Homo sapiens: one gene and its partners. The protein of the gene in region 1 purifies or fractionates together with the protein of each later gene. This does not show direct contact. Each region holds a gene or a part of one and is shown in the gene's direction. Other genes may lie near its edges.

What was found.
Region 2: the proteins of MEIS2 (region 1) and CMTR1 purify together in Homo sapiens (affinity purification with mass spectrometry; one large-scale study listed by BioGRID and IntAct). This does not show direct contact.
Region 3: the proteins of MEIS2 (region 1) and GNB4 purify together in Homo sapiens (affinity purification with mass spectrometry, with the first as the bait; one large-scale study listed by BioGRID). This does not show direct contact.
Region 4: the proteins of MEIS2 (region 1) and LRPAP1 purify together in Homo sapiens (affinity purification with mass spectrometry; one large-scale study listed by BioGRID and IntAct). This does not show direct contact.
Region 5: the proteins of MEIS2 (region 1) and EPS8 purify together in Homo sapiens (affinity purification with mass spectrometry; one large-scale study listed by BioGRID and IntAct). This does not show direct contact.
Region 6: the proteins of MEIS2 (region 1) and PPFIBP1 purify together in Homo sapiens (affinity purification with mass spectrometry; one large-scale study listed by BioGRID and IntAct). This does not show direct contact.
Region 7: the proteins of MEIS2 (region 1) and TOMM34 purify together in Homo sapiens (affinity purification with mass spectrometry; one large-scale study listed by BioGRID and IntAct). This does not show direct contact.

The regions. Positions count from the first base shown.
Region 1 is NC_000015.10:36,894,550-36,898,049, reverse strand, and holds part of MEIS2 (homeobox protein Meis2), read left to right. Parts: intron 1-1,363; coding exon 1,364-1,422; intron 1,423-2,788; coding exon 2,789-2,899; intron 2,900-3,237; coding exon of another isoform or gene 3,238-3,296; exon of another isoform or gene 3,297-3,333; intron 3,334-3,500. UniProt on the Homo sapiens protein: Involved in transcriptional regulation. Binds to HOX or PBX proteins to form dimers, or to a DNA-bound dimer of PBX and HOX proteins and thought to have a role in stabilization of the homeoprotein-DNA complex.
Region 2 is NC_000006.12:37,436,221-37,439,720, forward strand, and holds part of CMTR1 (cap-specific mRNA (nucleoside-2'-O-)-methyltransferase 1), read left to right. Parts: intron 1-3,500. UniProt on the Homo sapiens protein: S-adenosyl-L-methionine-dependent methyltransferase that mediates mRNA cap1 2'-O-ribose methylation to the 5'-cap structure of mRNAs.
Region 3 is NC_000003.12:179,441,471-179,444,970, reverse strand, and holds part of GNB4 (guanine nucleotide-binding protein subunit beta-4), read left to right. Parts: intron 1-3,500. UniProt on the Homo sapiens protein: Guanine nucleotide-binding proteins (G proteins) are involved as a modulator or transducer in various transmembrane signaling systems.
Region 4 is NC_000004.12:3,503,112-3,505,767, reverse strand, and holds the end of LRPAP1 (alpha-2-macroglobulin receptor-associated protein precursor), read left to right. Parts: 3' UTR 1-2,156; downstream 2,157-2,656. UniProt on the Homo sapiens protein: Molecular chaperone for LDL receptor-related proteins that may regulate their ligand binding activity along the secretory pathway.
Region 5 is NC_000012.12:15,667,389-15,670,888, reverse strand, and holds part of EPS8 (epidermal growth factor receptor kinase substrate 8), read left to right. Parts: coding exon 1-33; intron 34-1,063; coding exon 1,064-1,225; exon of another isoform or gene 1,226-1,229; intron 1,230-1,352; coding exon 1,353-1,502; intron 1,503-3,500. UniProt on the Homo sapiens protein: Signaling adapter that controls various cellular protrusions by regulating actin cytoskeleton dynamics and architecture. Depending on its association with other signal transducers, can regulate different processes.
Region 6 is NC_000012.12:27,681,206-27,684,705, forward strand, and holds part of PPFIBP1 (liprin-beta-1), read left to right. Parts: intron 1-340; coding exon 341-491; intron 492-1,181; coding exon 1,182-1,293; intron 1,294-1,409; coding exon 1,410-1,498; intron 1,499-3,500. UniProt on the Homo sapiens protein: May regulate the disassembly of focal adhesions. Did not bind receptor-like tyrosine phosphatases type 2A.
Region 7 is NC_000020.11:44,950,398-44,953,897, reverse strand, and holds part of TOMM34 (mitochondrial import receptor subunit TOM34), read left to right. Parts: intron 1-1,895; coding exon 1,896-2,065; intron 2,066-3,500. UniProt on the Homo sapiens protein: Plays a role in the import of cytosolically synthesized preproteins into mitochondria. Binds the mature portion of precursor proteins. Interacts with cellular components, and possesses weak ATPase activity.

The DNA.
Region 1 (3,500 bases):
CAAAAGACTCCTTTGGTTTTCTCCCAGCTATTATTCCTCAGCTTAATTGTATTCCCACCAGAGTGCTCACAGGAGGCCCGACCGAGTGGGGCCTGACTGTCCTCCTCCAAAGGGACTTCAGCTTCCTCGGAACACAGAGCTGCCAGCACACACTGAATTTTTCTGGCTAATTTCAAAGAGTGAGTTTTCAGTTCCTGCCTGTGGCCCCAGGTGGACTCATTAATCATGAAGTCCCCCTGTGCTTAAGATCTGAAACTGGAAATATTGACAGATGTTATCAATGGGTATATTTTTAGGGAGAAGCTAGCTGGATGCTCCCTGCTCCTCCGAAATGCGTGGTCAGTGAATCGTGTGCATGAGCTCAAATGTGTGGGGAATACACGTCGTTAAGTGCACAGGGACAAGGGTAACTCACAAATGGTAGAAAATTGTTTTGTTTTTATTAAATTTGGAGAAATAAAGGAGATTTCTTATCATCTTACTCTGTTTGTACATGAATATTTGATGGGCATTATTAAACATTAAAGTAACATGAAGTAGGCACTTATTTTTGGATTTCCAACAAAATTAGATCCAGGCTTCTTAGATGAAATAACTGCTTCTCCTTTGCATTCCTGCGATTCAGCCACCACCTGATTTGCAAACGTTTCTTGAGCTCTAATATCAAACATGTGTACCTGAGGCTCTGTCTTTCTAGTGGGTTGAAAGGTGGCTGGGTTTATGGTTGGCAGTTACCTTATCCTCTGCCCTGGGTGTCCCAGCTTAGGCTGGAAAGGCTGCCCCCAGCTGGCACTGACCTCTGAATGACCCCTAACTTTACAGGCTTAAACTGCAGGAGTTGCCGAAGAGCAGAAGTCTTTCTGGCCAGCACTTATTACTGCTGTGTTGGTGATAAAACTTCAGACAGCCTAATTGATGGCTTTGCTGACCTAACAATACCTTGTGAAAGCCGAGTGCTAGAGCCTGGTCTCCATTTATGACCAGCTGCAAGGGGAAGCTGGGTCTCCCTATCACGGGGAGTCTAGGGAAAGGGGGAAAGTCTTCCAGCCTGTGAACTTTAACCAGATTCCTACTTGTGCAAGAAGCAGAAGCACAATTTGAAGTTAATAGAAGCTTTCTCATGGAGAACTTTATTCCGTCCCTGAGCTCTTCTAGCAAGTTGTTTTGGAGTTGACTACGCAGTGACGACGGAGATTACCCAGTCAACTATTTTTGAACGCTGAAAGGGAAAATCACCTTTAAATTGAAAAGATAATTTTCAGAAGAGATTTGACTGTATTTTGTGCTCCTCAGCATTCATGCAAAGGTGTTCGCAGAGTACAGAAACGGAGTATGATGACTGGACTTCTCTGTTCTCTTTCAGGTTTATTAATGCCAGAAGAAGAATAGTACAGCCCATGATTGACCAGTCAAATCGAGCAGGCAAGTTCCAAGTAGTATCTATATTTATGTCCCACAGGCACAAATCCTCATCAAGTTATACTCCAGTAGTTTCCTCATCTGATAAATAAGTGCTTCCACCAGGCATTCTGGATTTTTTTTTTTAATGTCCCCAGAATCCCACTCAAGGAAGCAACTTCAGTAAGTGGTGCTAATTGGAGATTTCCCACCCTGACTCTACTGACACTGCTTTTTATTTTCTTTCTGAATTGGTAATTGGGCACAGGTATTAATGCCACAAGCAGCGTGTTTGTGAGCTCTGGCATTACCCCTTGCTTGTCTGCATCCAATCATTAGCACACTCTCATTTTTCTGTTACCCACAGCTCCTTGGTGTATGCTAGGCTTTCCTTTCTGTAGCATCTGCTGTTAAACTTATTGTATCCATTCATTTGCTTTGGCTATTCATAATATCCTATTAAAGCCTGACTTGCTGCATTGCCACCATTATTTTTTATTAAAGAATATTACCTTTGTATAAAATGCTTCACATCCATGCTGCTAAAATACATGTGAGCTTTTCTCAGAATTCTCTCAATTTCTCTAAAACAGTTTTTGTATGGTACTATCAGAACCCTCCTGGTATACTCCAAGTCGTTTTATTTTGAAACAGACATTTCCTCAGTTTACTGAGGGTTTGTGGTCTCCTGCAATAAGGCTTATAGGGAAAAACAGTTTTCCTTGGGGTGATGACTGCTGCCACTAACAACGGTGTTAAACTTGATGGAGATTTTACCTGTGGCCTCGCTTTAAAGGATTTGTGAAAATTAGTCATCCTTTGGCAAAATTTCCCCAATAACGCCAAAATATGTTCCCACTATTGGAGGCTAGGGAGAAGAACATAAAACAATGGAAATATTATATTTACTAAGTTTATATTTCCTTGGTGTGAATAAAAAGGCAAGCTTTTAATTGAGTCTATTTAACCTTGTGAAATTGTATTCAGGTTTAAAATGTTTGTGTAAAATATGAACATTTTGTATTAAGCCACCAGAGATGGCAGCCTCAGAGAATCCCAACCAAATGGTACATTGCAATATTTGTATATGGGGTACCCCTAACTTCTCCAGCCTTCGTCCCCCTAATCAAGAGATAAGTAAAAAAGCAAGGGCTGCAGAGGACGAACCCCCTGGGAAACTGGCCAGTGAAGTCTTTCTTCCAGAACATTTTTAAAGCTACTCACACACCTTCACTCAGTCATCAAGACACTCAGACAAACCACACCCCCATTTGTAGAGTGCCAACCACATTGTTGCTATAACGTTTCAGTGCTGCAGCGGGAACAATTGCTGATTGTTTGGTATATCTTTTCTTCTTTCTCCTCTGTGTCCTCGAATGACCACAATCAGGTTTTCTTCTTGATCCTTCAGTGAGCCAAGGAGCAGCATATAGTCCAGAGGGTCAGCCCATGGGGAGCTTTGTGTTGGATGGTCAGCAACACATGGGGATCCGGCCTGCAGGTAGGTTGGCTCATCCCGCCTCTGGGCTTCCCTGGGAAGTGCCACCTGCTCCACCAGCCTCTCCATCCACTCTACTATCCCACTGTCATGGTGGGTTTAACATTTGCCTGCTGCCTGCTCTGCCTGCTTTCTTTACATTGGGTGGGGGAAAAAATTCCTCTTTGAAAAAGTAAAGATTTTACCACAGTACCATTATACTCTGCCCCATACACATCCTTTTTCTTTTTTCTTTTTAAACCAAGGCAATAAGTGAAAAGGAATCTGAGTTTCCTTCTATTTTTTCACCATCAATTATTGCTGATTTTCCGGCCTCTTCTTGGATTTTATCTCCTTTCTAGGACCTATGAGTGGAATGGGCATGAATATGGGCATGGATGGGCAATGGCACTACATGTAACCTTCATCATGTAAAGCAATCGCAAAGCAAGGGGGAAGTAAGTACAGTCGGGTGCGATCTGTCTTCACTATCACTTCAGAGACTTTATTTTATTTTTTATAATTTGCCCCCATTTTATTTTTCCTTGCCCATAACTGCATGCCTTTCCAAACTAAGGACCTGTTTTTAAATATATATCACCCATCTCTGAAGTCACAGATGACA
Region 2 (3,500 bases), on another chromosome or scaffold:
GAGCATTGCTGCGTTCACTGTTTGCATTAAGCGTCGAAGATTTCACTAATCTGGTTGAAACTAGCATTTTGCTTTGCCTGTCTTTTAGGGTTATTCACAGTTTCCATAGATGCTTTCTGAGGAATGGTAAAATGTCTGGGAGCTTGCCTCAAATACCTCAAGGTAAATTTGCATTTACCTTGACTTGCCAGCTGTATTAGTTTCTTAGGGCTACTGTAACAAATTACTACAAACTGGGTGACCCAAAACAACAGACATTTATTCTCTCACAGCTCTGGAGGCTAGTAGTCCAAAATCAAAGTGTTGGTGGGGCCATGTTCCCTCAAAGGCTCTTGGGAAGACCTTCCTTACCACTTCTAGCTTCTGCTGGCTGCTAGCATTCCTTGGTGTTCCTTGGCTTGTGGTAGCATAACTCCAATCTCTGCCTCTACCTTTCCTCTGTGTGTGTCTGTATCCAAATTTCCCTCTTCTTATAAGGACATCGGTCATTGGATAGGGCCCACTGTAATCTAGTATTACATTTGATGTAATCTGGAAAGACCCTATTTCCAAATTAGGTCACATTTACAGGCTTTGGGGAGGATACCATATTCAACCCAGCACACCAGCAGGCTTGCATATTGGATCCTCTGTTGGATCACTGGGAAACTGGAATGAAATTTCATAACAGATTGGTGACTGAAAGGGTGTGAAGCACCCTTTGAAGGTAGTAGGAAATACAGTTTATTCACAAGTGATAAGCTTATTGAAGGGCAGTTACTCATCAGCTGCTACTGAGAAGCTGGTCCAGAGAGAAGCTTGACAGGTGGTACAGCGAATGGAGCATCGGTGTCGCTGTAGTCCAGGCTAGATAAGAGAGTCAGTTGCAGCTTTGTATGTGGAGGTGTTCACGCCTTTAAAGCAAGCTTGTCCAACCTGTGGCCCAGGATTGCTTTGAATGGGACCCAACATAAATTTGTAAACTTTCTTAAAACATTATGAGATTTTTGGGGGATTTTTTTTTTTTTTTTAAAGCTCATCAGCTGGCCAGGCGCGGTGGCTCACAGTTGTAATCCCGGCACTTTGGGAGGCTAAGGTGGGCGGATCACGAGGTCAGGAGATCGAGACCATCCTGGCTAACACAGTGAAACCCCATCTCTACTAAAAAACAGAAAAAAGTAGCCGGGCGTGGTGGCAGGCGCCTGTACTCCCAGCTACTCGGGAGGCTGAGGCAGGAGAATGGCGTGAACCCGGGAGGCAGAGCTTGCAGTGAGCCGAGATTGTGCCACTGCACTACACGGAGCAAGAGTCCGTCTCAAAAAAAAAAAAAAAAAGCTCATCAGCTGTTGTTAGTGTATTTTATGTGTGGCCCAAGACAATTCTTCCAGTGTGGCCCAAGGACGCCAAAAGATTGGACACCTCTGCTTCAAAGTCACAGTAGATTCCAGGGTAGGTAGGAATTGAAGTTCCTGAGTAAGAAGGCAAAAACTTACTGCACGCGATGGTTCTGGAGATTCTTGAGGAAAGGGAATTTTACCTCTCACCTGGAATTTGAGCAGCTTGGTGAAGATAGAATCTCCTTGGGTAGGGGTATTGGGAGAGATGGCTTGTAAGGGAAAAAGAGAGAGTATGTCTGGGGAACAAGTGATATCTGGTTCTAAGTGGATCTTGGGGGACATTTGCTCTCAAGTAACATCTCTTTGAAGTAAGGAAAGGACAAGTCCCAGGTAAAAGAAGGTAAGTGTATAAGGGTAAGGATCCTTCAAGGAAACCGTTCTGATTTAAATTTCAAGCTTTTGTGACTGAATTGAGATTACTCTTCCCCCTTCTCTGGAAGTGGTACTATATGACTCAGTCAGGATTGACTATTGCTGTTGTGTGTGTAGAATGGAAATCCAGGCTGGGCATGGCGGCTTATGCCTGTAATTCTAATACTTTCGGAGGTCAAGGTGGGCGGATTGCTTGAGCCCAGGAGTTTGAGACCAGCCTGGGGAACATGGTGAAAACCCACCTCTGCAAAAAATACAGATATTAGCTGGGCATGGTGGCATGCACCTGTAGACCCAGCTACTCGGGAGACTGAGGTGGGAGGATCACTTGAGCCTAGGAGGTAGAGGTTGCACTGAGCCAAGATTATGCCACTGCACTCCAGCCTGGGCATCAGAACAAGACCCTATCTCAAAAAGAAAAAAAAAAGAATGGAAATCCAGAGGTGTCCAGTTCCTTGTATGTGTCTGGCAAGAGGCCACTTCGTCCTTTCATTTGCAGAAAATGAGATGGGAGGCAGAGGCAAACCAACATTTCTAGATTTCCCTAGGTTAATTTATTTTAGGAAGGGGCAGCTCTGCATTGACACAGAAACTGAGGGCAGTATCTTTATCAGCAAGACTGCTCCCTGTGCCTTCTTTCCCACCATGCCTAGCCTGGAGCAAAAGCTCAGTAAATAGTTACTGAATAGAACTGATAAAAGGCAACAATAGTATCTTTTCCAAGAAGCTTAAAATGCGTCACAGTTTTCATTTTGCCTGTCTCCTCCAGTCTGCAGAAGATCATTTCATTAAGTACTTAGCATTTATATCACCTATGTTCTGTATCTAATTCTCTTAGGTGTCCCCCGGACAGTATACCCTGGTGGTTTGCTGTCTACATATCCCCTGAAATGTATATGCAGCTTTCCTATTCAAATCATTCTATTAAAGCAGAGGTGTTTCCATTTACTGCAGCCACTTCTACCTGAACATAATGTTCAGGTAGATGATTGAAAAATGCTCTTTAGGGAGGACAATTAGAAAAACAAAACAGTAGTTACTATTTCTGTCTGTGTGGACCTTATTTTTTCCTCCTCTGCTAAATCAATGTAATGACTCATTATTAGATCTATTTAGTTTAATCAGTGTGTTTATTTTACATTATTCACATGGTAGCTGCATTGCCAGGTCAAAGACTGACATCTGGCCAGAGTAAAGAAGAAAAGGGATGTTGTTGTCATGGCCACTGTTGCATCGTGATCTTTTGAGTATTTTCAAAGGAGTTTGAAGGTATTTTCAAGTGTAAATACATTCTTACAAATTTGCTGTCAAATAACTTTTTGAAGTAAGGAGAGGCAGATGAGGTCATTTTGTTCTCTTTGGTTGTTTTTCACGGGAAAACTATGGTCTAGACCCTAAGAAAATTCCTTCTCTCCTTAGCTGTGCATCTGGTGTAGGCTCCTAGCCCTGCTGCAGCCAGTTGCTTTGGAAGTTGCCAGGCTCCTTCACCAGTATCACATTAAAGGCGCCTTCCTCTCCACCAGGTTTAATTCTTTCCTAAATAGGCTATTTGCCCTGAAACACCATCGCTTTCCTGTCAGCCCAGATTCATGACCTTAATCAAAAGCTTCCTTTATCGGTATCTGTTTAAATTGCTCTAACAAGTTACCATTTGTCTGGCATGAAGGAGAAATTGAGTCTTTAAGTAGGAATGAGTTTATTTCACCACAGTCGTTAAGCAGGATGTGATGTTTATTAAAATTCATAATTTAT
Region 3 (3,500 bases), on another chromosome or scaffold:
CAACTAAACACCTTTACCCAGAGATTGTTTAAAATATGAAAATTTGTCATTAACTACTTGGTAAGTGAAATTAAAAACCCAGTAAGGCAGCTTAAGCTGAATGAGGTTTTATGTCTAATTGGCATGTGACGTAAATTATATACATTATGTTTAGGATAGTTAAAAAGGCTTACCGTGGCTAGTTTTTATAAGGAAATAATTTAAGACATTCTAGAATTCTGCAAATTAAATTATATATGTATGCATGTATATACTTTTTGAGACAGAGTCTCTCTCTGTCACACAGACTGGAGTGCAGTGGTACGATCATGGCTTACTACAGCCTTGACTTCCCAGGCTCAAGCAATCCTCACATCTCAGCCTCTTAAGTATCTGGGACTATAGGTGCATGCCACCGTGCCGATGAAACTGTGTATTTAAATGGAACATGGTAGGCAGTTAAGTACTTGAGGAAATTGAAATTTGTCAACAAGGGATCTTAGTTATCTGTATTACGTATTAAAAGGGCTCTAGGGAAGCGGTTGAGAGGTTAAAAAAAAAAAAAAAACACCCTGAAAAATGTGATCTCCTTGCCGTGTGGTCTAAAAAACAAAAAACTTAGTAATTAAAAATTTTAAACTTAGATATTAGTTTTCATGGTTTGTGTTAACCTTACTATGGGAATTAAAATTTATGAACAGGAGATTTCATTTGGTTCATTAATTATTGAATATATCACCAGGGAAACTCTTTGGGGGGAAAAAAATGAAAAAACCACAGACTCCTCCTGGCTGTAAGACATAAAGAAAATAGAGATAGGTTAGTATGTAAATTTCATTCATGTTTATGTGTTGACTCACCTTTTAATGCAAAAAAATCTTTGCAAAGGTTTTAGAAATGATGAGACAGATTATGAGAGGATGCTGAAGAATCGGGGGGATTGTGTGTTCCCTTAAGGCATTGAAGAGCAGTCTTGGTATATGTGATAGAGAGTGTTGTAGGATAAAAACGTGAATAGGAAAATCAGCAGTAGAACAAAACTAAATGGGACTAAATGTAACTAAAAATGAATATTCTATTCGAACTGCATGGTAGAGATAAGACCCTTTGAATGATAGATTCCGAGAACATTAGTGGTGGGGTAGAGAATTGGGGATGGGATAGAATCCCAAATAACTTCAGTTATTAATTAGCTGCTAATCTAAACCTGAGACAGTAATTGTATAGTATTTTTGTAAATGAAGTGTCATCCTGAGGTAGCAGAGATGGATATCTGCTCATCTCAGAACAGTATCACCATAAGTACACTTGCTTGTTAACTAAAACCTCTAAAATTTTATCTTATAGGTAGGCATTATGGCTTTGTTAAGAAAAATGAAATCTACAGTGAAAGACACTGGATGCTGTATTCTATTTCTACTTATTGGTAACTTTAAGATATTTTACCTGTTTTTTTGAGACGTCTCACTCAGTCACCCAGGCTGGAGTACAGTGGTGAGATCTCGGCTCACTGCAACCTCTTTCTCCCAGGCTCAAAAGATTCTCATGCCTCAGCCTCGCAAGTAGCTGGCATTACAGGCATGCACCACCACACCTGGCTAATTTTTGTATTTTTAGTAGAGATGGGGTTTCACCATGTTGGCCAGGCTGGTCTCGAACTCCTGACCTCAGGTGATCCAACTGCCTCAGCCTCTCAAAGTGCTGGGATTACAGGCATGAGCCACTGTGCCCAGCCATAAGATATTTTACTTTTATTAAAGCTGTGAACATAAGAAATTGTAGCTACTTTTCCGTGACTATGGTAATTGCACATGTTAACATTTTGTCCTATGAAGCGGAGTTAGCAAATAAGCTAGATGGTAATGCTTGTGAGGCACTCATAAACATTTGTTGGATGAAATTCTGATATCCCCAGTTGTCATATTCTAACCCTTTAATGGTGGGATTGATTTTTAAAATTTTTGTATGTAACCAAAAATAATATATAACCAAGTCTGGTAAATTTAAAGGGTTGTTTCTGGTAAAACAAAAGCAAGTTATGTGACTTTAAGTGATACAAAACTGCCGGGTATGGTGGATCACACCTTTCATCCCAGCTACTCAGGAGGCTGAGATGGGAAGACAGTCTGAGCTCAGGATGTCAAGACAGGCCTAGGCAACATAGTAAGGACCCCACCTCTAAAATTTTTTTTTTTTAATTAGCTTGGCATGGTGGTGCATACCTGTAGTTCCAGCAACTTGGTAGGCTGAGGTCGGAGATCGTTTGAGCCACTGGGTTCAAGGCTGCAGTGGTGAGCAAGGATGGCAGTGCCACTGTGCTTTAACCTGGGCGACAGAACAAGACCCCATCTCTTAAAAAAAAAAGTGACATAGGACTGTGGCTTGGTAACACAGAGATAACTACATGTGGTCGTATAAAAAAAAATCCAAGAGATAATAATGCTTGAGTGGGTCATGTAAGAAAAGACAGGCTAAGTGTATGATTTTAAATTTACATAATCATAATTTATGTTTCTAATGTTTAGTTCACAAAATCTTAGAGTACTAAAACCAAGAGGCTCCTCTTAGAGAAGGTAGTTTTAGGACTAAGTAAAAGGAAATGCCCTGCTATTTTACAGAGCTGACGTAAATTGACAGAACTTGTTACTTTTAAGAAGTAGTACAGGTGAAAATATAAGCATACTAAAAATGGGTTCAATGAATTCATGGACAATAGTTTCAAAACGTATTGTGTAAAATTTAAGAGAAATCCTTAGTATGTTGAGTTCAGCCACATTCTCATAAACATTTGGTTTCAATGACGTAATACTTTAAATACAAGTTCTGTCATAGCATTTACACTGTAATATGATTATAGTGATGAGCCCCATAACGATATTTCAGTCGGCCGGGCTTGGTGGCTCACGCCTGTAATCCCAGCACTTTGGGAGGCCGAGACATGTGGATCACCTGAGGTCAGGAGTTTGAGATCAGCCTGACCAACATGGTGAAACCCTGTCTTTACTAAAATACAAAAATTAGCCAGGCGTGGTGGCGGGCACCTGTAATCTCAGCTACTCGGAAGGCTGAGGCAGGAGAATTGCTTGAACCCAGGAGGCGGAGTTTGCAGTGAGCCGAGATCGTGTGCCACTGCACTCCAGCCTGGGCAACAAGAGTGAAACTCCGTCTCAAAAAAATGATGTTTCAGTCAGTGAGTTGACTGTATATAGGGTGATGGTCCCAATTTTTTTTTTTTTTTTTGAGATGGAGTCTCACTCTATCACCCAGTCTGGAGTGCAGTAGTGTGATTTTGGCTCACTGCAACCTCTGCCTCCCGGGTTCAAACGATTCTCCTGCCTCAGTCTCCCAAGTAGCTGGGATTACAGGCGCCGGCCACCCAGCCTGGCTAATTTTTGTTTGTTTGTTTGTTTTTGTATTTTTAGTAAACACAGGGTTTCACCATGTTGGCCAGGCTGGTCTTGAACTCCTGACCTCAGGTGGTCCACCTGCCTTGGCCTCCAAAATTGCTAGAATTACAGGCA
Region 4 (2,656 bases), on another chromosome or scaffold:
GGTGGTGGTATAGACGGTCTTGGGGTAGCTGGTATAGACGGTCTTGGCGTAGCTGGTATAGACGGTCTTGGGGTAGCTGGTATAGACGGTCTTGGGGTAGCTGGTATAGACGGTCTTGGGGTAGCTGGTATAGACGGGCTTGGGGTAGCTGGTAGTGGTGCTCAGGAGGCGTGTGGGCTGCTGGTGCAGCTGGAAGCGCACCTCAGCCATGGTGTTGTGCCAGGTGTGGTTGGGGATGCAGGGGACGTTCCGGCCGCAGGAGGCCCCTGCCAGGCACAGGCAGCTGCGCGGTGTGGAAGAAGTGCCGCTCGGAGTCATGCTTGACAAGGAAGTACACCTTACTCCTCTCAGTGGTGAGGGGTCAAACCACTCCTTCCCAGCGATGGGGCCAGCAGCCTGGCGAGGGCTAGGCACCGGGGAGGGATGCTGGATTTGGAGCTGGGGGGAAGGGGTCACCCTGCATTGGGCTCCAGTGCTCCGGGTGCCATGCCTGCTCCCCCACCACTGCCACCGCAGCCGCTGCGGGACACCAGGGGCTGGGGCTGAAGAGCAGCCTCGAGCTGGGCTGTCCAGGACACGGTCGCCCTTCTTCCTCGTGTCCGTGAGCTCAGGCACAACCTGCAGCTTAGCCAGCCCACTATGGCTGCGTGCGTGGCAGGACCCGGGCCACCATGGCTGCGTGCATGGTAGGGCACATGATTATTTTAGCCTCTGGTATCACTAACCATCCCTAAAGTCTCCAATGGTCTGTTCCTGTCTTTCCCTCTGGTTCACTTGTGGGGTCATGTTGTCTTCTGTTCTTTGTTATTTATTTTTTTCTTGAGACGGAGTCTTGCTCTGTCGCCCAGGCTGGAGTGCGTTGGTGCGATCTCGGCTCACTGCAACCTCTGCCTCCCAGGTTCATGCGATTCCCCTGCCTCAGCCTCCCAAGTAGCTGGGATTATGGGCACCTGCCACCATACCCAGCTAATTTTTCTGTGTGTGTGTGTGTTTTGTTTTTTGGTTTTTTTTTTTTTTTTTTTGAGATGGAATCTCAATTGCTCAGGCTGCAGTGCAATGGCGCAATCTTGGCTCACTGCAACCTCCACCTCCTGGGTTCAAGAAATTCTCCTGCCTCAGCCTCGCAAGTAGCTGGGATTACAGGCCCCTACCACCACAGTGGGCTAATGTTTGTATTTTTAGTAGAGACAGGGTTTCACCATGTTGGCCAGGCTGGTCTCGAACTCCTGACCTCAGGCAATCCGCCCACCTCGGCCTCCCAAAGTGCTGGGATTGTAGGCATGAGCCACCATGCCTGGCCTAATTTTTCTGTTTTTAGTAGAGACAGGACTTCACCATGTTGGCCAGGCTGGTCTCAAATTCCTGACCTCAAGTGATGTGCCCACCTCGGCTGCCCAAAGTGCTGGGATTACAGGCATGAGCTTCTGTGCCCGGCCTGAACTGTTAAGTGTTTGTGAAGAATTATTTGGGGGCCTATTTGAGAGCTGTTATATGGATCATCCTCCTGGAGAGGGTTCTTAAGCCTCTGAGACCGGGTTTGGGGCTGAGGCTTTCTGACCCACACAAGTCATGCTGACCCCTGAAGGGCCGCAGGCCAGATCTTGCCAGGTGAGCACTTTCCCCGCTCACATTCAGGATAGGGCGAGGGGGTTGGTACCGATTCACCCTCAGGGCCTAGATTTGGGGGCTTCAGCTTGCTGCAGATAGGTGCTCCCTTCACTCTCACCTGAGGCTGGGCTGGAGCCTGGTGTCTGCCCCACCCTGCTGGTCAGCCCCCTAGGACCTGAGCCCCGTAAGCCTGGACTGGCCACGCCCTGGGGCAGCAGCACTGGGTGCTTGGCGCTCACGACCTTCCTGGGCCCCTGGGTCCCTCACTTCTCCCTTGTTTCTACCTTCCTGGCTTGTCAGATTCCCACAGCTCTTAAGGAGAAATTCAGTATTTACTGCAGCATGTGTTTTCAGTGTGATGGTTCATCTAGGTACCCTAGCCTGTCATTGCTGGAGTTGGAAATCTCTGTTGTCTGCTGTTGTTTTGTGAAACAAGCGCGTGAGGTTATAAGTTTCCCTCAACGTACCACACTAACCACATTTCCCTAAGTTTTGATGTGTAGTGTTTTCACTGCCATTCAGTTCAAAATATTTTCTCATTTCAAGTATGATGTCTTCTTTGATCCATGTGTATTTTTAAGTTGCTAAGTGTACTTACTTTGGCCGGGCATGGTGGCTTACGCATGTAATCCCAACACTTTAGGAAACTGCGGGGGGGAAGGATCACTTGAACGCAGGAGGCTGAGGCTGCACGTCACAGGGAGAGACGGGCCGCGGTGATGTACGAGCTTCCTGTTGATAGGCAGTTAAGTTGGTTCGGGATAACGTGGCCTGCCTGGCACGGGTATTCCCAGAGTCACAGATGCTCACCCGTGCCAGCGTTGGCTGCTTGGGACATGGGGACGGCGAGGTCCCCACACCCCACATGTGAGCTGCTGGTAGCTGGGCTGAGCCCAGGTCCCATCCGTGTGTGGGGCGTGAGTGTGCGGTGCCATCGGGTCTGCACGGGCCTCGCCTCGTCCCGGACGCTCCAGGCTTCCTGTGGCACGGGTGCCGAGAGGGACCAGCCTGGGCCTGCTGAACCGAGGGGGTGGTCTAGGGCAGAGGC
Region 5 (3,500 bases), on another chromosome or scaffold:
AGTGTGTCAGATATATCTCAATACCGTGTTGAAGTAAGATGCTTTGGTGTTTGCTAGTATTTAGAGTGACCCTTGAGGAACATAAAAATTGGAAGTTAAATCAGAATTCTGTTTTATTTCATTCTTATGATGTATTTTAAGTTGCATTGACCTTTTTGTTTAGATTTTTTAAAACAGATATTACATATAAAGTATCTTGTTAGTCTGTGGTCTATTTTCATAAAGAATGATTTAAAATCATAACTACTATCCATTTATCCTTGCCAGTCTTATTTCACTTATAATAGAATAATGGCTTTTACTTTGTACTATAGAATCTTCTTGAAATTAAGCCTTTGCTAGTTTCAGTGAGCAATTTAGTTTTTAGTTTAACTAAAGTTATTGCCAGTTCTAGTTAAATAATGGTTCTTTTTTAGTTTTTGCCCTCTTTTACGATATTTGCTCTTGATTGGAATTTATCTGGTTGACCTGTGCTTATAATAGAAAATATTTAAGCAGGGAAGTAATTTTTAAATTGCTCTTATTTTCAGTTTTCTACCTATGTCAAGCATGCTTAATCAAATTTAAACAGTTTTGTTTCAGTAAGTGGTTTTAGTGGATTGAATAGTTTGACAGTTCCTATAGACTAGAATTGTGCTGTTGCTACAATCAGTGTCCATAGTTTTGAAGCTCCCATACAGATAGCCTGCTGTTTAAATGCTGCTATGTTCAGCATTTAAATAACCATAATAGAGTGTCAAATAGGGGAAAGTTTATTTTAAGAGAATATTATTTAAGCTGTTAAGAATTTGTTTTAATGTCATGTTTATGTAGTTCAACATGGCTCCGTATGAAACAGATTTAGGTATCTTATGAGTCAAAACACCATTTCTTCTATTCAAAAAAAACCTTGGTTGGCTTTATTCTCTCATTAAAATAGTCATGAAGTTTTAAGAGTACTTTGTGTTTGTCGTTCTCTGCTAGCTGACCTCAGGTTATTTGATTTTCTTTTGGAAAATGTATACTAAGAGGTTGTATGTGTTTGTATGTGTTATAAATCTTTTTCCTTTTTGCCAATTGTAAGCACTTGACTACCTTTGTCCTGGATCGGAAAGATGCTATGATCACTGTTGATGATGGAATAAGGAAATTGAAATTGCTTGATGCCAAGGGCAAAGTGTGGACTCAAGATATGATTCTTCAAGTGGATGACAGAGCTGTGAGCCTGATTGATTTAGAATCAAAGGCAAGTGTGTAAAATTTATACTATTTTATTTTCAAGAAACTCCACAAATATTAATGTTTACAATCATTTCAGATTGTTTGAAAATGGATGGAAGTTTGACAAAATAAAATGTTCACTTTATTTATAGAATGAACTGGAGAATTTTCCTTTAAACACAATCCAGCACTGCCAAGCTGTGATGCATTCATGCAGCTATGATTCAGTTCTTGCACTGGTGTGCAAAGAGCCAACCCAGAACAAGCCAGATCTTCATCTCTTCCAGTGTGATGAGGTTAAGGTAAAAGAATGGTGAAATTTTTGTTTCTTCTTTAAGCAGATTGTCTGGGAGCTTTTGAATTACCTATTTTGATAATATATCTGCATATTAGTTACTAGATTTTTAGTTTCTGAGCATCTCGTAAGGAAAACAAATACCTTAGTATCTTCTCTAGGATTTCCATGGCAAGTAAATAAAGAAATTAGGGTGATGTTAATCAAATCAGTAGTTCACACTTGTAATCCCAGTGCTTTGGGAGGCCAAGGCTGTAAGATGGCTTGAGGCCAGGGGTTTGGGCCCAGCCTGGACAACATGGCAAGACCCAGTCTCTACTAAAAAGGTTTTAAAAATTAGCTAGATGTGGTTGTACACGCTTGTAGTCTCAGCTACTCAGTTGGCTAAGGGAGGAAGATCTCTTGAGCCAGGAGTTGGAGATTACAGTGAGCTATAATCACCCCTCTGCACTCCAGCCTGGGCAACAGATTGAGATTGTGTCTCTTAAAAATAAGATGCATTCTGTTTATTTTTTTAAAGTGTAGATAATATATTAAATTCACATCAAATGCCTTAAACTTATAATTAAAAATTGATTGTTCAGAAATCTTGCTTTGTGGACAGTAAATAATCATGTAATTTGAATTTATTCTGCACTAATGACATAGCATGGATTACTGCAATGAAGTACTTAGACATTTCCCACGATATTGATTTAAAGTTCACCATTTAATTATGTGACTTGATTCATTGCTCAGGATTTGTAATTCCCAGATGATATGTGAAAATAGTTGAGCCAGTAATAACAGGCTATATCCTGAAAGTTTCTATTTCAAAGTACAGTGTAATTTCAAATGATTATAATTTGTGATGCTTTATTGGACCTTAGAAGTTATCTTCAACCTTGAATGTGTTTATTTCCTCAGTTGTTTTCTTTAAAAGAGAAATCATTTTGTGTTAATTGGTACTTTGCCAAAGCAGTGATTTAACATTTTGATGATATATTATAAAATATCCATGTAATTTTATTTTATAAAGAAACTCTAGGAGATTAGCACAGTTACTTGATCTTTTCTGTGTTTTTTGACATTTAAAGATGATAGATAAAGTAAGATTGACTGTAAACTGTATTTTATAATTTTCTTCTAATTTCAATTTACGTCATGGATGACTTTCTAAAAACCTTCTTCTAAAAGAACTGGCATTTAGGTAATTTGTGTAAGTGATATTCATCAGATTTTTGTATAGTGCCTTTTGAAAGTCATAGTATATTATAATTTTTGTAAGGTTAGATATATTCAGTCAATAAATATTAAAGGGAATATTTTGCTTTAAAAATATAGTGAAATTTAATTCAAACATTTTTATAAACCAGAGGCCTAAGTTGAAAAACATTTCAAATTTGATGTTTGTATCTGTGTTCTAAAAAGCCCCCCCCGGGAGCTAAAAGTTACTATGCTGTGAAAAGTTTCTGGATTTTAGGTTTGGGAACAAATGGCTTGCTTTACTTGATATGGAATGGTAATGATAATGGATTCAAAATGTATTTACTGAATATAGTTTTGTCCTAACCCCAAAAGCTCACATACCACGAAGCACTGTATGCATTTACTCATTAGTTTCATACTCTGCATATGAGACATTTTTCGCTTGGCTGGTTAAAAATATAGAGGCAATGAAAAACGCAGTTTCTTTTATATGGCTCATTGTGCAATATTGCTTTTGATTTTTAAAGTTTCTTTATTATAGGACTTCATGCAATGCTCCTGCCCACCTTTGCAGTAAAATTTTTCTTAGAAATATAATAGCCCCAGTATAAGAAGTTGAAGATTCCTAGGCATCTTCAGTTTTCATTTTGGGTTTTTTTAAATAATTATTTTTAATTAAATATCTTTTCATCTTCAGTTTTAGTATCCTATGTAACAGAAAGCCTTTGACACGATATTTGTAATGTCTTATTGAAACTAAATGCTCTTAGGAAGTCACACTGGACTGGGATGCATTGGCCTCTCATTTAACTAGCAA
Region 6 (3,500 bases), on another chromosome or scaffold:
CAACTGAGTTTCCTGTTTGGGAATCCAATCTTCAAACAACATTGGTTAAAACTGATACAGTGACTTGTGTTTGTCCAATTTGGTCTTTTTCTGTAGCACTTGTTCTTGCTCTATCACGTTAAATCTTTTGTGGTTTCATTTGAAATGAAGACAGTGGTCTTAGAAGATAACTTTCAACCAGTTGTTCCTCCAATGTATACTAAAAATTAAGCTTTTCATGGTCAAATGTGTATCACCAGGGAATTTCCATGTCTATTGAATGTATAGTTGTTTAAAACTAATGATAAGCCACAGGATTGGCTTTGGATTATTTTTCATGCAATTACTCATTTTCCTGTAGTGACTTGGATATGCCATTTGCCAAGTGGACCAAGGAGCAGGTTTGCAATTGGCTGATGGAACAGGGCTTGGGCTCGTACCTGAATTCTGGCAAGCACTGGATTGCATCTGGCCAAACGCTTTTGCAGGCTTCTCAACAAGATCTAGAGAAGGTGACTGCTTCTCTGTTTTGTTCACACAATGGATACTGAGAAGAAAACAGTATGAATGTAGGGTTGTTTTATAGTCCAGAAAGGGCCATGAGTGAAGCCAGTAAAAACTCTGTAAACAAAAGTTTGGGTTTTCAATTGCTTCATGCTTCTTTTTTCTGGTGGTCTTGGGAGGACCTGGTCTTGATGATTCCTTATGGAACACTTAAGCCATTGGGCATTTTAATGAAAAAGAATTACATAAGCATAATTCAGTTCATATTTCTCGAAATCATTGTTTGGCTTTATCATTGGCCTGTTTTTCTCAGTGTAAGATATGCAATTAACTTCACTTTGCAAAAGAAAAAAAAAAAGCACCCTACAATTTGTGTCTAATTATTTAACATTTCTTCCAAATTATTTAATATTTTGTACAAAATAAGAGTCAAATTCTTTTTATGCATGCTACAGTTCCTAGCTTACAAAGAAAATGAGTCACTAGGGAATGCCTAACACACCCCTAAGATAATTGTGGTGGTCTTGGCTTTTCAGGGACCTTTTGTTCAACAACACTTTACTAGCCCAAGTTGGGATTGTAATTCAGTATTGAATTGGGTCTTTAATGCTAGCTTCATTTTGGAGAAATTTGCATCCTTTGCCAGTGGCACCCAGCCTATACAGATAGAATTATAAAGTCAATGTTTATTGTTTCAGGAACTTGGAATCAAGCATTCACTTCATCGAAAGAAACTCCAGCTAGCACTCCAAGCCCTGGGATCTGAAGAAGAAACCAATCATGGGAAGCTGGATTTCAACTGGGTCACTAGTAAGAAGTTTTTATTCTAACAAAATGAAATAATTATATACATAGTTGCTTTTTCTTTTTAATCACAAGAACAGATGTTTTGTGGCATGGTAGCAACACTGGCCTCTCTCTTTTAGGATGGTTGGATGACATTGGCCTCCCTCAATATAAGACCCAGTTTGATGAAGGACGGGTTGATGGTCGAATGCTACATTACATGACTGTTGTAAGTGACTCACTCCTGGGGTTTGGGGGAGGAAAACTTTTTTTCTCTGAAAAACACAGGAATTGAGTAAGCCAAACACAGTGTTTTCAGTGATTCCACCAGAGTTTGAAGCTGTTGCTTGAACTTGAGGAGAGTGGCAGGCATATTTCCCATGAGGCTGAAGTTGTAGCATTTGGTGATTGTGATTGAACAGGCTTGGGATAATTTGAAACCCCAATGTAAGCTAAGTGAAGCCTAATTTAAACTAAGCTCTCCAGAAGGTTGATTTTATATGTAATACATTCAACAAAGTAAACACTGAAGTGTACACTTTGAATGGGTACATTTTATGGTATGCAAATTATATCTCATAAAGATTTTTTTTGTATTATTTCTTTTGAGATGGAGTCTCGCTCTGTCACCCAGGCTGGAGTGCAATGACGTGATCTCAGCTCACTGTAACCTCTACCTCCCAGGTTCAAGCCATTCTCCTGCCTCAGCCTCCCGAGTAGCTGGGATTACAGGCTCACGCCACCATACCCAGCTAATTTTTTTGTATTTTTAGTAGAGACGGAGTTTCGCCATGTTGGCCAGCTGGTCTCAAACTCCTGACCTCAAGCGACCTGCCTGCCTCGGCCTCCCAAAGTGCTGGAATTATAGGCATGAGTCAACACGCCCAGCCTAAAGATATTTTTTAAATAGAATGTAGAATTTTTAAGCCCAAGCTATCTCTAAGTTATGGGTTTCTATGTGCAATGACCATTTGGAAGAGGCCACCCTTTTGACCTGACATCTTCAAGGACTTGTCTTCTCCTTTCCACTCTGGACAACTGTTACCTGAAACCCTATCACCCGTCTCACTTCAGCCTAGTTCTGCTACAGCAGGAGTTACTGGGGTTAAAGGAGGAGGGAGGAAGGCTAGACTTCTACTCTGGTTCCTTCATTATTGTACATTTCTAGCCCTCCAGCCAATGTGTAGGACTATTCCCTGCTTTACAGCAGTGAGAAAGATGGATTCCAGGAGAACTTTGTTTTAGGTTCCATACCACTATTAATGTTCTACTTAAAATTCTCTTTATTTATTTATTTTTATTTTTATTTTTATTTTATTTTATTTTATTTTGAGACGGAGTCTCGCTCTGTCGCCCAGGCTGGAGTGCAGTGGTGCGATCTCGGCTCACTGCAACCTCCCTCTCCTGGGTTCATGCCATTCTCCTGCCTCAGCCTCCCAAGTAGCTGGGACTACAGGCACCTGCCACCATGCCTGGCTAATTTTTTGTATTTTTAATAGAGACGGGGTTTCACCATGTTAGCCAGGATGGTCTCGATCTCCTGACCTCGTTATCCACCCACCTTGGCCTCCCAAAGTGCTGGGATTACAGGCGTGAGCCACCGAGCCTGGCCTTGTTCTACTTAAAATTCTTTTATTTATTTATTTATTTTGGAGACAGAGTCTCACTCTGCTGCCCAGGCTGGAGCGCAGTGGCACAATCTTGGCTCATGGCAACCTCCACCTCCCAGGTTCAAGTGATTCTCCTGCCTCAGCCACCCGAGTAGCTGGGATTACAGGTGCACACCACTGCTCCTGGCTAATTTTTGTGTTTTTGGTGGAGATGGAGTTTCGCCATGTTGGCCAGGCTGGTCTGGAACTTCTGACCTCAGGAGATCCACCTGCCTCGGCCTCCCAAAGTGCTGGGATTACAGGCGTGAGCCACTGTGCCCGGCCTAAAATTCTTTTATTTAAACAGCTTTTTGTGAAGTAGGCTATAGACCTAACTACCCTAAGTATAATCTTTTTCAAGTAAGTAGCAAGTTTTAAACAGCCAACTTAAGTAGGCATTTCTCAATGTCAAAAAAATTTGGAGTTCAGTTCATGGATTTTTCTTCTCTGTCATTGAACCCAAGCCCCTTACCTTGATGAGCACATCACATAAACCTGCGTGAAATAATACTAATATGTGTAGTATGTTGCACATTTGCTATGTGTCAAACATCCTTTTAAGCATTTTGCTCATATTAATAC
Region 7 (3,500 bases), on another chromosome or scaffold:
GCAGTGGAGCAACATGAGCAGATTTGTATTTTAGAGAAAAGCTCTTTGCTGCCATGTTGAGGGATGATATGAAGGGCAACAGAATAGAAAGGAGTCATGCAGCAATCCAGGGGAGAGGGTGGAGAGAAAACAATGGGACCAGTCAGGGGACATGTAGGAAGTATATCAACAAGCTTTAGTGGTTGCGGGGTATCGAGAAGGGAGGAATAGAAGAAGACACTCAGATTATTGACATTCAGTCGGAGGTGACTGTGGGACATAAGACTAGAGATCTAAGTAGGACGGTTGGGTATTTACATGGAACAAAGGAAGAAAATACAGGCCAGACATAAGGATTTGAGGGTCATCAGCGCAGAGGTGGATTAGGGCTGTGAGAAAGAAAAAGAACATCACAGCTAGTGTGAAGAGGATGGAGCTTTGAGAAACTCCAGCATTTGAGGGACTTACAGAGGAACAGCAGCTAGAGAGGTGGGAGGAAACAGGGCATTGATGTCCCAAGGGAAGGAGTATTTCAAGAAAGATGGAGACATCATTAGTGTCAGGTGTTCCAAGGAGCTTACATTAAAGGTTTGGCAATGAAGTCACCGGTGGCTCTGATGGAAGCTGGTCAGTGGGATCAGGAGCCAGAGGGCAATGCTTTCAGAAAGTCAGGCTTGAAGAGAAGCTGGGGAGTATACCTGTGATGGCAAGGGGTGTCCAGTATGGTTTTATTAGGTGAGGAAAGAGTTAAAGGGACTTAAATGCTGACGGTTGGAGTTAGTAGAGAGGAAGGATGAAGATGTGGGAGAGGGAGGTGCTGCCTGGGTGTGGTCCCTGAAAGAGGCAAGAGGAGATGGGATCCAGAGCTTAGGTGGGTGGATTGGTCCCATTGTCTCTTCTGTTGTGACAGGAGAGAAATAGGAAGGATTGGGCACCCAGGCAGGTAGGTTTGTATTTGGGGTATGAGGAAGTTTGCTCTAAAAAAGGGGAAGGGCCAGGGAACAGGTTTGAGGAGAGCAGAGGTTTGAAATAGCTTGGCCGCCAGGAAAACAGCCTAGCCAGAGACATCTTGGAATTTGTAGTGATACAGTCTGTGGTTTTTATTCTTGTAATATAGGAAACATGGTTGTAGGAGCAGAAAAAGTATACAGTTAGCATTATTCACTCATTCAACACATAACTGATTGGGCCTTGGTGGTTGCTAGGTGACATACCAGGTGCTGGAGATCAGTTGACAGAATGAACTTGGTCTCTGGGTGGCATTTTAAGCTGAAATCTAAAGAATAAGTTGGAGTTAGCCGGGCCTGGAAGGTGGCAATCTTTTTCCAAAATGAAAATGGTTGTTCTGGGTAGAGGAAAAAGCATGTGCAAAGTCTTGAACAGAAGGATCAGAAGAGAATGTGGCTCACAGTGAAGGGGGACAGGAAGGGGTGGGGACCAGATCTCACATGCCACATTAGCCTAGGGAATTGGGAACCCCTGAGGAGTTGTAAGATTTGAGAATGACATAAGCTTTGCATTTTTTAAAAAGCCTGAGCATTAAACAAATGTCAGGTGCTTGCATGGTTGTGTACTTGATTCATTGATAAAATATGAAACAAAATGTATGATTCTTTCTTGGAGAAACTATAGTCTTTTTGGATCATGGTTTAAGTATCCTTAACAAGCAACAGATCACCACTTTAAAGGTAACATAGTTTGACCAAGCTCAAGGAATGTCATGGGGACTGATCTGAGATGGTGTTTATGGGTTCCTGTATTGCACGTGTTGGAGGAGCTAAAGAGGTGGTTCCGACCAGGGGGAGGGTGGCAGCTCTGGCTCTTCTGAAAAGGCCTACCTCCCATGGGTGTGTGAAAGGAGAAATATCTTCTTGACCCAGCTGGAAACCTCCCTGCAATCCTGCCTTCTTTTCCAGAATGACCAGAGCTCTCATGGACTCGCTTGGGCCTGAGTGGCGCCTGAAGCTGCCCTCAATCCCCTTGGTGCCTGTTTCAGCTCAGAAGAGGTGGAATTCCTTGCCTTCGGAGAACCACAAAGAGATGGCTAAAAGCAAATCCAAAGAAACCACAGCTACAAAGAACAGAGGTGAGCTGTGACTCCCTGCCCAGAGTCTTGCAATCTCCCACTATCCATTTTCTTTAGAGTAGTCCTGCAAAAATTGGCATTGTTTAGCTGAGTTATAAAAATAATCTTAGGAACAAAGTATAAAACAAAATACAAGTCTTCACCTCTTAGAGACTGTTTTCTCAGCTGTATAGTGAGGGTGATGATAAAGTCTTCCTCACAACCATGAGGACTGAATGACATAAGACATGTAAAACTCCCAGCCTGGCACATAGGCATGCAGTGTGAGTTCCCTTCTCTTTCCTCTGGTAGCACTTGGGATGTAGTACTTAGGATGTTTTTGGTTGCAAAAACAGAAAGCTCAACATGGTAAACATAGTATAGGGAATTTATTGGCTCATAAAACTGAAAAATCCGAGAGAATTCAGGCAAGGTTTGCTCCAGCAGCTCAGTATATTAACAGACTAACTCCATTTTTCTGTACTTATCACAGCTTTATTTTCTGTTGTGCGTCAGCTTTGTCTTTGGCAAGCTTCCCTCCTAGTAGCAAAATAGCTATAGCAGTTCCCGGCCTCACATCCATACCCCATGCCTCATGACCCAGAGAAAGAAAGTCTTTCTCTGATAGCTCACTAGGAAAAGATAGGATTTTTTTCCCCCAAAAAACTCTAGCTCACATATTTTCTCAATCATTTTCTCAATCTATTCTGGTCTTCATGGTCACAGGCCATTCCCTGAAGTACACACCATAACCGGCGGATGAGATTTTGTGATTAGGTCACCCTGAGGCACCTGCCCCACCTCCAGAACTAGAGGGTGATGCTTCCCAGGAGCATGTACACTGTGTGAATCCCTGGAGAAGCATGAAGAAGAGAAAGGAGATCCAAGCAGCCAAAAACAGGAGATTCCTCACCTCAACTGTATGAAATGAAGAGGCCATTTGTCAGGCACTAGGAAGCTCTTTTAATGCTCCAGGGGAATGGTCCCAGCCCAGCAAGCTAGGGATTCAGGCTAGAGGTGCAGAAGGGATCAGAGATGGAGCCCTGCCATGTGTAAGTGACCTATAGGTGTTAGGGGAGGACAAGAGTTACTCACCTTCTACAGGAGAATGCCTCTCTGGTCATGGGTAGCATTCACTCTGGTTTGTGGGAGCCTGGTAAGTGTTCCCCACTCTTCTCTAGGATGAAAATGTGCGGTGCTAATGAACCTGATGGCATCAGTGCCATTGATTTCATTCTTTCAATCAGTGCACCTACCATTGATTTCATTCTTTAAATCAGTGCACCTACCATTGATTTCATTCTTTCAGGGTCACTGAGCCATGTGTTCCAAGCCATGTGTATGCTAAGCAGTGTGACACAGAGGACAGTCTTGGCCCTCAGGGAACTCTCCCTCAGTTGAGGGACTGAGACATGTAAACAGTGTCTTAAAACACAAGGAGGAGGAACATGTGCTT